Linked DNA regions of Homo sapiens: regions 2 and 3 are each linked to region 1. Evidence: fine-mapped QTL for protein levels in blood plasma. A gene starts in region 1. Each other region holds a variant in brackets. All regions are shown on one strand. Distances are between the middles of the regions.

Evidence for each region. PIP is the posterior inclusion probability: the model's chance that the variant is causal. Protein levels are from antibody-based Olink assays in UK Biobank. Linkage for the fine-mapping came from a reference panel and not from the study's own genotypes, which makes the PIPs less certain.
Region 2: its variant is fine-mapped to the plasma level of the TSPAN8 protein (UK Biobank, PIP 0.90).
Region 3: its variant is fine-mapped to the plasma level of the TSPAN8 protein (UK Biobank, PIP 0.97).

What each region holds. Positions count from the first base shown.
Region 1 is chr12:71,156,341-71,160,582 of GRCh38, reverse strand. It overlaps TSPAN8 (tetraspanin 8), which reads left to right and starts at 2,584. Exons shown (of 9, transcript NM_004616.3): 1 at 2,584-2,653; 2 at 2,796-2,964. The coding sequence starts at 2,905.
Region 2 is chr12:71,119,309-71,123,550 of GRCh38, reverse strand. No RefSeq gene overlaps it. Among named protein-coding and RNA genes, the nearest start is that of TSPAN8, 37 kb to the left of the region's middle. The variant G/C (reference allele first, on the strand shown) is at 1,899.
Region 3 is chr12:71,141,794-71,146,035 of GRCh38, reverse strand. It overlaps TSPAN8 (tetraspanin 8), which reads left to right. Exons shown (of 9, transcript NM_004616.3): 3 at 1,823-1,885. Among named protein-coding and RNA genes, the nearest start is that of TSPAN8, 14 kb to the left of the region's middle. The variant A/G (reference allele first, on the strand shown) is at 2,487.

The DNA of each region.
Region 1 (4,242 bases):
AAAAATATGTTCTGAGATTATATTCATTTCAGAATTGCTATATATCACCTCCTTGAATATTAGAAAGTTGAAGGCTCTGACAAGTCCTGAAATTAATAAACTGTTTTTCTTGACCTAATAGATTTTTTAAAGGCAGAGGTAGCATATTGGTAGTTCCCTAGAGAACCTAATGAGGAAATCACTAGTTGAACTTTCTGAGGAGCTTGGCTGCCATTGCAAATCTCTGTAGCTCTAATGCCAGCTACTGTAGGTACAGAGGTGAATAGGGTAAGATTTCTGCTTTTCAGGCATATAGAATCAAATGTGGGGGAGAGACACAAATAAATGTGATATAGTGGCAATTGTAGATTTAAGGTCTGTTCAAATAATAATGGACTTGAGGACTGAGAAGCAAGTAAATCTGCCCAGAGTGGGGGCAGAGGATGAGGAAGGGAAGGCTCCACAGGGATGTTGCAATAGAGAAGGTGGGAAAGGATATTCCAGGCAGAAGGAACAAGGCATAAAATCCAAAGGTGTGTTCTAGGCCTGGGAAATAATTCTGTGGTTATGGAGCCTAGAAGTGGAGGCTGCCTAGGAAGAAAGGGGAGGGACAAAATTCTGGAAAGTGGGTGGAGGACTTGTTTGCTGTGTGCTGTAAATGCTACTTTAAGGAATCTGAACTTTATCTTGTAGGTAAAAGGAAAATATCCTTAGATTGGGTTTTCATCATTATCATTACCTAATCAATAAGTATTTCTCAAAAAGAATTTTAAAGTGCTAAGGCAGAGAGGAACTGGGAGAAACTGCCAGGGAAATTAATTCTCATTCTATTGACACAGCTCAAGTAAGAAATGATAAAGGACTGAATAATGAAATGCAAAAGGATGAGATGGAAGAAATAGTTTTGACAGTAATTTAGGAGCTACACAGACCAGTAAGAGTGATTGGATGGAAAGAAAGAGAAATACAAAATATCTGTACAAATTCAGCCTGGGAGAGTGTTGTGTGATTATAACATTAATAGGAATAGGAATTTCCAGGAGTGAACTGTTTCATATAGGTTTTGAATTAGACTAGGGGTTCTATTACACAGTCATTCTCCTGTACAAACACATCCATTGATTTTTGTGTTACAGAGTTCAAGAGTGATTCAACTAAAGACTACACAGTATTCTTTTTAAGGATGTTCAGCATCCACCAAAATATCTATTTCAAACTAAAATTTGGTAGTATTCAATACATTCTTTTCAACAAAGCAGCATTTAAATCTGTAATTTTTTTTTAATTTTAGCCTCTGATAAATAATCATTTCTGGGACTATGAATCAATTTTGGTTTTCATTCAATCTGAAATTATTCTTTCAGCCTTGGATTATTCTATATACAAAATATCTCAATAGAAGGTTGTGAAACTATCCATTTTCTAGTAGGAAAGAGAACACAAACAATTTTAGTGATGATTTATATATTAAGCCATTATTTTTGGAATTAATCCTAAATTTGGCCTTTAACGCTATATATTATTGTTGATAATGCATTAAAATATATTGTATTTGTAGTCAGGGAGTAGAATTGTTTCAAAAACATTGTATGCCAGTGAAAATTAGAAATAATATTTTTCTTTTGTAAGGAGTTCATGCTTGCTTATCGTGTAAAACTTAGCAAAGATTCTAAAGAATAATTTTCTCAACAACCTTTTAAAGTAGAGGGTTCTTTTATTTAGGGGGAGAAGAACTCCCTTTGAGAGGCAGGATGTGGAAACTAACATGACCCAGGCTGTTTACACAAAGCAGTCCACACCTCCCTGATGATGTCGGAGCATTTTGCCTTTACCTGAGACAGCTGCCTTCTATTAGCACTAGAAACAAATAGTAAAATCTATGGTCACTGATCCATGACCACCTTCCCATTTTGAATTTTTTTGTCCGGGAGGACCTGGAATCCAGAAACTGAGTTGGTGGAGAACAGCTGTTGCTAGATACAATTTATCAGAGGAAGGAAATTACAGTGTCCACCTTAAAAACAAACCAAGCTATCAGAATGACTACGCATTATAAAATGAAAACAATGTTGCAGTCAGTGCCACTTTATGATTTCTTTCCCTTTGTATCATAAAGAAATAAAGATAAAAAGCAAATGGTCTTATCATGATAGGCAAGGCTGCCTCTCCCTCTGCAATTTCTGTGGTGTATTTACGGCAGCTCTGGAATTCTTTTGAAATAAATTTAGATGTTTTGGAGGGCAGATACATGTAATGGTTATTTTACTATTCTAGGTTTAATGATAACAGGTTGCTATGTCTAAGCTTTGATATTTTGCAGATTTCTAAATGCATTTTATTGCATTTAGAAGGAATTTTGTAGTATTGAGAAAATGCAATGCAAAAATGAGTAGAGATACAATGTCCATTTAACTCAGAACAAAACAACCTTATTTCCCCATAGTTGAAATGGAGGGCGGGGAAGTCAGGCAGTGGTTTCTGAAAGCCAAGAACTTAGTAGCACTGTGCCATTCTCTTGCCTGATCCAGTGCCATTCCCTTCACTTGATATCTGTTTACTTTAGAGGAGGCAGTTTTTGAGAAAGGATCATAAATATCCTGGCCCAGTGCCCCAGGAGCTATGACAAGCAAAGGAACATACTTGCCTGGAGATAGCCTTTGCGATATTTAAATGTGTGAGTTAATAGCCTTTGAGATATTTAAATGTGTGGGTTAATAGCCTTTGCGATATTTAAATGTGTGGGTTAATTTTTTTATCCAGTTTAATAACTTTTTATTCCTCCCTCTACTTCTTTGCTTTCTCTTTCTGCTCTGAAGCCGTGGATACAGAAATCTCTGCAGGCAAGTTGCTCCAGAGCATATTGCAGGACAAGCCTGTAACGAATAGTTAAATTCACGGCATCTGGATTCCTAATCCTTTTCCGAAATGGCAGGTGTGAGTGCCTGTATAAAATATTCTATGTTTACCTTCAACTTCTTGTTCTGGGTAAGTGTTTTCCTTTTAATTATCAATTTTATGCAAGAAAGGGGATCTTGATATAAATATCATAAACAAGAACAGACTGTACACTAGAGAAATAAGAGAAGGGGGAAAATGTATTTTCCATGTACTTGTTTGGATTTGTTTGTTCTTTCTTTGGTTATTTCAGTAATTGAAAATGAGCCAAGGACTCAAAAAAGTGCACTTCAGAATGTGAGGATAAACATTTCATAAATGTTTTCATATTGCTGCAAAAAAAAATCACAGAGGAACACAAATGCCCCTTAATTAAAGGACAATTTTCCTTAGTTGTATATCAAGCAGGCCTCCCTAATTTAAGGACTCTGTGGTAAAAACATGGTCTGATTCCATCCGGAGCCCGGGTCCTGATTCCCGCCCTTCACTTCTGGGTTTGAACAGGTGAATCGCAGGGTGTGGGACAATAAAGATCATTTTCAGAGCCTCAAAGACAAAAAAAATGGGTCATGAAAAACTTGAGGGGGAAATGATAAAATTCCTAAATCATAAGAAAATCAAACTAAGACCGTGGATATATATATGTATTGGCATTTTAAAGTCAGTATTTTGATGTGTCATCACCCTACCTTTTAATTGACAGGATTTGTATTTTAGCAATTTGTTATGTTTCTCTTGAAAGTCCATTGACATAGACATAACCAACAAATTGATAACTGATATCTATCAATAGATAATGGAAAAACAAGGTATGAAAAGAGCAGGCTGGGATGTTGGGACATTGACCTTATCATTTTTAGCATATATGGTACAATTAAAGATTGTTTAAATGTCAATCAGTGGAAATAGCACAAAGTATTTAAATGAAAAAAGTATTTTGTATACTGGATTAAAAGCTACCTTATCCACTCCAAGGATGAAAGAACTCTGGTTTTGTTTTTGTACCTGATCTTTAGTAAACAGACATCTCATACCTATGTGTTGCTATATTTCTGTTCTATTAAAATAATGATGAACTTAATTAAACTTAACTACATGAATACAGCTTTATTGTATAGACTGATTTTCCATTCAATGATCAGTAGTGCTAATGAGTACAAATGGATATATTGGTGACTTTTAAATAAGTAAGTAAATATTTAAAAAAGTAAAATAAAGAAGGCAAAAAAAATGGGCTGCTGTTTTTAGGTTAAAAAAATGGGCTGCTTTTGCAAATATTTAATGTAGCTCATGCTACATATATGCCAGTTTTTTAGTTAGTTCTGATACATTTCTTCCCTTGAGATACTTAAATTGATTAAACATTGG
Region 2 (4,242 bases), 37 kb after region 1:
CTAGATCCCTGAGGAATCGCCACACTGACTTCCACAATGGTTGAACTAGTTTACAGTCCCACCAACAGTGTAAAAGTGTTCCTATTTCTCCACATCCTCTCCAGCACCTGTTGTTTCCTGACTTTTTAATGATTGCCATTCTAACTGGTGTGAGATGGTATCTCATTGTGGTTTTGATTTGCATTTCTCTGATGGCCAGTGATGATGAGCATTTTTTCATGTGTTTTTTGGCTGCGTAAATGTCTTCATTTGAGAAGTGTCTGTTCATGTCCTTCGCCCACTTTTTGATGGGGTTGTTTGTTTTTTTCTTGTAAATTTGTTTGAGTTCATTGTAGATTCTGGATATTAGCCCTTTGTCAGATGAGTAGGTTGCGAAAATTTTCTCCCATTTTGTAGGTTGCCTGTTCACTCTGATGGTAGTTTCTTTTGCTGTGCAGAAGCTCTTTAGTCTAATTAGATCCCATTTGTCAATTTTGTCTTTTGTTGCCATTGCTTTTGGTGTTTTGGACATGAAGTCCTTGCCCATGCCTATGTCCTGAATGGTACTGCCTAGGTTTTCTTCTAGGGTTTTTATGGTTTTAGGTCTAATGTTTAAGTCTTTAATCCATCTTGAATTGATTTTTGTATAAGGTGTAAGGAAGGGATCCAGTTTCAGCTTTCTACATATGGCTAGCCAGTTTTCCCAGCACCATTTATTAAATAGGGAATCCTTTCCCCATTGCTTGTTTTTCTCAGGTTCGTCAAAGATCAGATAGTTGTAGATATGCGGCGTTATTTCTGAGGGCTCTGTTCTGTTCCATTGATCTATATCTCTGTTTTGGTACCAGTACCATGCTGTTTTGGTTACTGTAGGCTTGTAGTATAGTTTGAAGTCAGGTAGTGTGATGCCTCCAGCTTTGTTCTTTTGGCTTAGGATTGCCTTGGCGATGCGGGCTCTTTTTTGGTTCCATATGAACTTTAAAGTAGTTTTTTCCAATTCTGTGAAGAAAGTCATTGGTAGCTTGATGGGGATGGCATTGAATCTGTAAATTACCTTGGGCAGTATGGCCATTTTCATGATATTGATTCTTCCTACCCATGAGCATGGAATGTTCTTCCATTTGTTTGTATCCTTTTTTATTTCCTCGAGCAGTGGTTTGTAGTTCTCCTTGAAGAGGTCCTTCACATCCCTTGTAAGGTGGATTCCTAGGTATTTTATTTTCTTTGAAGCAATTGTGAATGGGAGTTCACTCATGATTTGGCTCTCTGTTTGTCTGTTGTTGGTGTATAAGAATGCTTGTGATTTTTGTACATTGATTTTGTATCCTGAGACTTTGCTGAAGTTGCTTATCAACTTAAGGAGATTTTGGGCTGAGACAATGGGGTTTTCTAGATATACAGTCATGTCGTCTGCAAACAGGGACAATTTGACTTCCTCTTTTCCTAATTGAATACACTTTATTTCCTTCTCCTGCCTAATTGCCCTGGCCAGAACTTCCAACACTATGTTGAATAGGAGTGGTGAGAGAGGGCATCCCTGTCTTGTGCCAGTTTTCAAAGGGAATGCTTCCAGTTTTTGCCCATTCAGTATGATATTGGCTGTGGGTTTGTCATAGATAGCTCTTATTATTTTGAAATACATCCCATCAATACCTAATTTATTGAGAGTTTTTATCATGAAGGGTTGTTGAATTTTGTCAAAGTCTTTTTCTGCATCTATTGAGATAATCATGTGGTTTTTGTCTTTGGCTCTGTTTATATGCTGGATTACATTTATTGATTTGCGTATATTAAACCAGCCTTGCATCCCAGGGATGAAGCCCACTTGATCATGGTGGATAAGCTTTTTGATGTGCTGCTGGATTCGTTTTGCCAGTATTTTATTGAGGATTTTTGCAACAATGTTCGTCAAGGATATT[G/C]GTCTAAAATTCTCTTTTTTGGTTGTGTCTCTGCCCGGCTTTGGTATCAGAATGATGCTGGCCTCATAAAATGAGTTAGGGAGGACTCCCTCTTTTTCTATTGATTGGAATAGTTTCAGAAGGAATGGTACCAGTTCCTCCTTGTACCTCTGGTAGAATTCGGCTGTGAATCCATCTGGTCCTGGACTCTTTTTGGTTGGTAAACTATTGATTATTGCCACAATTTTCAGCTCCTGTTATTGGTCTATTCAGAGATTCAACTTCTTCCTGGTTTAGTCTTGGGAGAGTGTATGTGTCGAGGAATTTATCCATTTCTTCTAGATTTTCTAGTTTATTTGCATAGAGGTGTTTGTAGTATTCTCTGATGATAGTTTGTATTTCTGTGGGATTGGTGGTGATACCCCTTTATCATTTTTTATTGTGTCTATTTGATTCTTCTCTCTTTTTTTCTTTATTAGTCTTGCTAGCAGTCTATCAATTTTGTTGATCCTTTCAAAAAACCAGCTCCTGGATTCATTAATTTTTTGAAGGGTTTTTTGTGTCTCTATTTCCTTCAGTTCTGCTCTGATTTTAGTTATTTCTTGCTTTCTGCTAGCTTTTGAATGTGTTTGCTCTTGCTTTTCTAGTTCTTTTAATTGTGATATTAGGGTGTCAATTTTGGATCTTTCCTGCTTTCTCTTGTGGGCATTTAGTGCTATAAATTTCCCTCTACACACTGCTTTGAATGCGTCCCAGAGATTCTGGTATGTTGTGTCTTTGTTCTCGTTGGTTTCAAAGAACATCTTCATTTCTGCCTTCATTTCGTTATGTATCCAGTAGTCATTCAGGAGCAGGTTGTTCAGTTTCCATGTAGTTGAGTGGTTTTGAGTGAGATTCTTAATCCTGAGTTCTAGTTTGATTGCACTGTGGTCTGAGAGATAGTTTGTTATCATCTCTGTTCTTTTACATTTGCTGAGGAGAGCTTTACTTCCAAGTATGTGGTCAATTTTGGAATAGGTGTGGTGTGGTGCTGAAAAAAATGTATATTCTGTTGATTTGGGATGGAGAGTTCTTTAGATGTCTATTAGGACTGCTTGGTGCAGAGCTGAGTTCAATTCCTGGGTATCCTTGCTGACTTTCTGTCTCGTTGATCTGTCTAATGTTGACAGTGGGGTGTTAAAGTCTCCCATTATTAATGTGTGGGAGTCTAAGTCTCTTTGTAGGTCACTCAGGACTTGCTTTATGAATCTGGGTGCTCCTGTATTGGGTGCATATATATTTAGGATAGTTAGCTCTTCTTGTTGAATTGATCCCTTTACCATTATGTAAGGGCCTTCTTTGTCTCTTTTGATCTTTGTTGGTTTAAAGTCTGTTTTATCAGAGACTTGGATTGCAACCCCTGCCTTTTTTTGTTTTCCATTTTCTTGGTAGATCTTCCTCCATCCTTTTATTTTGAGCCTGTGTGGGTCTCTGCATGTGAGATGGGTTTCCTGAATACAGCACACTGATGGGTCTTGACTCTATCCAATTTGCCAGTCTGTGTCTTTTAATTGGAGCATTTAGTCCATTTACATGTAAAGTTAATATTGTTATGTGTGAATTTGATCCTGTCATTATGATGTTAGCTGGTTATTTTGCTTGTTAGTTGATGCAGTTTCTTCCTAGTCTCGATGGTCTTTACATTTTGGCATGATTTTGCAGCGGCTGGTACCGGTTGTTCCTTTCCATGTTTAGTGCTTCCTTCAGGAGCTCTTTTAGGGCAGGCCTGGTGGTGACAAAATCTCTCAGCATTTGCTTGTCTGTAAAGAATTTTATTTCTCCTTCACTTATGAAGCTTAGTTTGGCTGGATATGAAATTCTGGGTTGAAAATTCTTTTCTTTAAGAATGTTGAATATTGGCCCCCACTCTCTTCTGGCTTGTAGGGTTTCTGCCAAGAGATCCGCTGTTAGTCTGATGGGCTTCCCTTTGAGGGTAGCCTGACCTTTCTCTCTGGCTGCCCTTAACATTTTTTCCTTCATTTCAACTTTGGTGAATCTGACAATTATGTGTCTTGGAGTTGCTCTTCTCGAGGAGTATCTTTGTGGCGTTCTCTGTATTTCCTGAATCTGAACGTTGGCCTGCCTTGCTAGATTGGGGAAGTTCTCCTGGATAATATCCTGCAGAGTGTTTTCCAACTTGGTTCCATTCTCCCCATCACTTTCAGGTACACCAATCAGACGTAGATTTGGTCTTTTCACATAGTCCCATATTTCTTGGAGGCTTTGCTCATTTCTTTTTATTCTTTTTTCTCTAAACTTCCCTTCTCGCTTCATTTCATTCATTTCATCTTCCATTGCTGATACCCTTTCTTCCAGTTGATCGCAT
Region 3 (4,242 bases), 15 kb after region 1:
TTATGAATGATCTGATATCTAAATACCTTGAAAAAGTGAATAGTGATACACGAACAAAAAAAGTTTTAAAAAATATCACACTGAGTTCTTACTAAGCTCTTACTAAGAATTCTTAAAGTTTTTTCGTTGATAGTTTAACAAATATCAGGAAAGAATGCTACTCATAATAGCTACAAGGTTCATTAGTTACAGATGAAGGCCAGAATGACTATTAAGCCAATCATTATGAATCTGCTTGTGAAAAGAGAAGAAAACGAAAGAAGATAATCAGTGAACAAACTAAACAACAAACAAAAAATTCAGTTGGTATGAAATTACTGAAAATCCCAGAGGGTCTCATTATCATTTGACATAAATTATCACTCACAAACTGTTTAACAAAGGACTGCTAAAATGAGCATTTGTCTTTGTTTGCAAATGAAATTAGAATTTTGTGAAAGGATGCTATAAATCTCAGGGTTAGAGAAGTAAGGAAAGTTTTCAAACACGAAAGCTGTGTTTTTTAATCATTTGTATTTTATGGTGTGTGTGTGTCTATGTGTGTGTATGAGATAATTGCATAGGTTATTTGGTGGTTAAAGAGCTTTGGTTTTTAATTGCATTAGTTATTTTGTAGGAGCTGAAGTATGTTGTAAGGGCAGATTGGTTAGGAATTGCTCCGGGTTTTCATGATGTAATAATTAGCGCCCAGGATTCCAATTTCTCCATTCAAAATGAGAGGTTTAGACCTAGATGATTTTCAAGGTCTTTTAGGGAGCACAGAGTCTATGGTTACTCAACTACTCATTGTGCTTCCTATTCCTTAACAGAGCCCTTGACTCTATTTCCCCTGCAAACTCAATGAGAAGCCATTAAAAGTGCTGTCTTGGGGTTCTAGGCGTATGTCTCAACCATGCACGAAAGCAATGATGCTCCAAGGACATTTGTCTGTCAGAGCACAGCAAGGTCAGAATTGTCTACTAAGTCCCCCAAGGCCTGCTGTGTCTGGTATGTTACCAGACACAGCTCTTAACATCTCTATCTAATAATAGATCTTTGATTTTTGTTTTTGAAGCCACAATGCATAACTTTTTTTTTTAAACCCTGAATGACAAGAGTTTTCCTTACACTAAAGTAAAATGTGTTTTACATTTTATTGTGTTGGCATTGGTCCAAATTAAATAATCTGGTAAAATCATTAAAGGAATTTAAGACTTCAAGTTCTGTCTTTCATTGTTCCTTCTCTGTGAGTAAACTTTACCACCTAAAAGAGCTTGTTTTTAAGAGAGTTTATTTGGGTTCAAAAAGTGTTGATTATTATATAGCCTTGTTGCTTAACTGCACATCTTGTCGTATGTTTTACTTTTTCCCCCTCTATCCCAACATCTCCCTTCCTGTCGAATCTTAAATGAATGGTGACTATTCCGTCATTCCCTTTTTTCCTGGTCCAACATAGCTTCTCACAAACAAGCCCAGAGGCATGATAAGGATATTTTATCTTTAAACTGTTGTGACTTTTCTTTTGTATGCTAAAATCTAGCAGAAACACAGGGCTAGAGTTACATGGAAAAATAATCTTTCCAGGCCTAATGGAAATAACTTCTTGTCCATAGAGCTGTGAGTGAGTTGTGGATGAGAAATAGAATTATTCTCATCAAACTTACACATTGCAATTTAACATTTCAACAATGATCTGTATATGAATATGCCTCATTTATGTCTTCCAGGTTGTGATAGTATAGTCGATGATGAACTACTGTCACCGGATAGATAGGAGGGTGTGGAAATAGAGTTTCATATGATCCTAATTGTATTCTTTTTGTTTGTTTGTTTTTTTCTGCAGCTATGTGGTATCTTGATCCTAGCATTAGCAATATGGGTACGAGTAAGCAATGACTCTCAAGCAGTAAGTATGCAAAAACAAGTCACCCTTTCCCCAATGTAGTTTATTTCATTTATAATAATGAAAGTTATAACAATAATAGTAATAAACATGTCTAAAACATTTTTCTTAACTGCTTCATGTAATCACTTGTGCTGTTATGTGATTTTATAATTCAGTTCAATCAATTAAAATTACTATGTGGCTGGCACTGTGCTAGATGTGGAAAAATCTTTCTAGAGAATGGAGGAGGTGTTATTCAAAAATTCAAAAAAATTCAGTGAGATGCAGGTGGGAAGGGGCCAAAGTGGAAATTTTCCTCCTTTACTATTTGTTTAAGGCCTATATTGAGGATATAGGCCACCTCTCCTTCTCACCAAGAAGAATAATTTTTATAGTAGAAGGTTTTGACAATAATTTAGTTGATCCCAATGTGGTTGGTCCAAAAGGAAAGAAAATGAGAAGTTTTCTTGGAGAAGAATAATTTGAATCTGTATTTTAAAGGCAACAAGGTACAAGGGTACTTGTTATTTACCTGTGGCAACTGGCAGTGAAGGTAACCACTTGCCAGTAGTGGCTAATCTAACTTGGTGAAACTCAGTAATTCTCTGGGGATGTCCAGATT[A/G]TTGCTATATGTATAAGATGAACATGACCCATTTTCCTCCCCCACACACCATTCCGTGCCCAGTGCCAAAGCTCTTACCCAGATCTACAGGTCTGGAGGAAGTGTATTTCGTATGGTTAATTCTGGCTCCAGCTATTGGACCCCATACGTGTGGTATCTGTTCCATGCCACAGTATCACAAATGTGGAAAGGGTTGGGGGAAGAGGGAGGGGCGAGTGTGCGGGGATTGTTCTGTCAGTTTTACGGAACATAATACCACCCTGGCACCATTTCCTGGCTCCCGTGCTTTTATTCTTTTCTCTCCCTTCTTCTATTCTGGGGCTCCATCCCCACAAATTATTATTCTAACACATTCAGAGCCATTAATTTGTTCTTTGTTTTCTGGGCTCTTGCCACTAAAGGATCACCTCTTCTACTGCTAGAGCCTTTTTAAGGTATTTGCCCACATAAAGAGAGTTTCTCCTCTCTGAGAAGAATTTTGATTCCAAGTTGATAATTACTGAGAGATTTATTAAGCCAGCAATTAAGACAATGCATTTTCTACTAAAACGTATTTCACCATGGTGCAGCTAAATGCCTTTGAACACAGCCTAGTGGAAAGGAAGATGAAAAGGGAATTAATGTCTGCTCTGTTTTCTTCGCTGCAGTGGGTGGCTTTTCTGAAAATTTCTTTCTCACTCTATCTCTGTTTTTTTTTTTTTTGTTTTTTTCCTCTCTCTCTCTCCTGTTGTTCTTTTCCTTTTAAAATTGCTTTCTGCCCTTAGGGAGCCCAGAGGATCACAGTGGCAATTAGCGGCTTCCACATTCTGTGCCTCACCATGGTGAAGAAATTGGGTGGGAGATGGGTGTGGCAGCTTTTTAGTAACATCCTAGTCCATCAGGATTTCACTTATTGTTTTCTACTGATAACCATAACTGTGACTTCCTGATGGCCTGGAGCTCTGGTGTGTGAGCCCAAGAAGTGCATTTGAAGATGTGCAGAATTACCATCCTGTAGAATCTGAAGTCTGACTTTGGGACTCATAATTAAGCACAGAGATTAACAGTCACCTACTTACAGGGTGCTGTGGCCTCTTCAAGATGTGTGTGTAGCCTGCAATTTATTTTATTTTAATTTTACTTCCTGTTGGTATTTTCTTTCCCTCCCAGTGCTTCTGGTAAACAAATTTGGTGTTTAGTCTGTTAAAAAATTGCACATATTGAATGTATTAAAGGGGAACTGTTGTCCTTGAGAGGGTGCTCCTCCACATCTGGGGATAAGAATGAATTAATAGAGCTAGACAGCATCTTTAGTTACGTTTTGACTCACGCTTCATCAGCCTCTCACACTGAACAAAAGCCAGTGTCTGCCAGGACAACATTAACCAGCTTGACTTATATAAAATTGGCTTGGTTTATATTTTTCTCAAGCCAGTGACAAAGAATCAAGACAGAGCAAAGAGCTGAATTTTTTGTTAGTGAAAAAACAGAGGTAGCTGTTTTGGAAGGAAAAACATGAGCATAAACACAGAAAAGAAGGATGTCAGGGAAATGACAGAACTTTCTGCTGAAGTGTCTCATGAAGACCCTTTTTTCTACCTCAGGATAAACTTAGCACCATGAGGAAAAGCACATGAGCAGCCATCCTTGTCCCAGGAGGTCCCTTCTGATCCAAAGAGGATTCCTGAGTCCTCATCTTTCAGGACCAGCTGAATTTCTCTGTCTTTAGAAATTCTCCCCTTGTCCTAAGACACACAGGGACACAGTGTTCATTCAA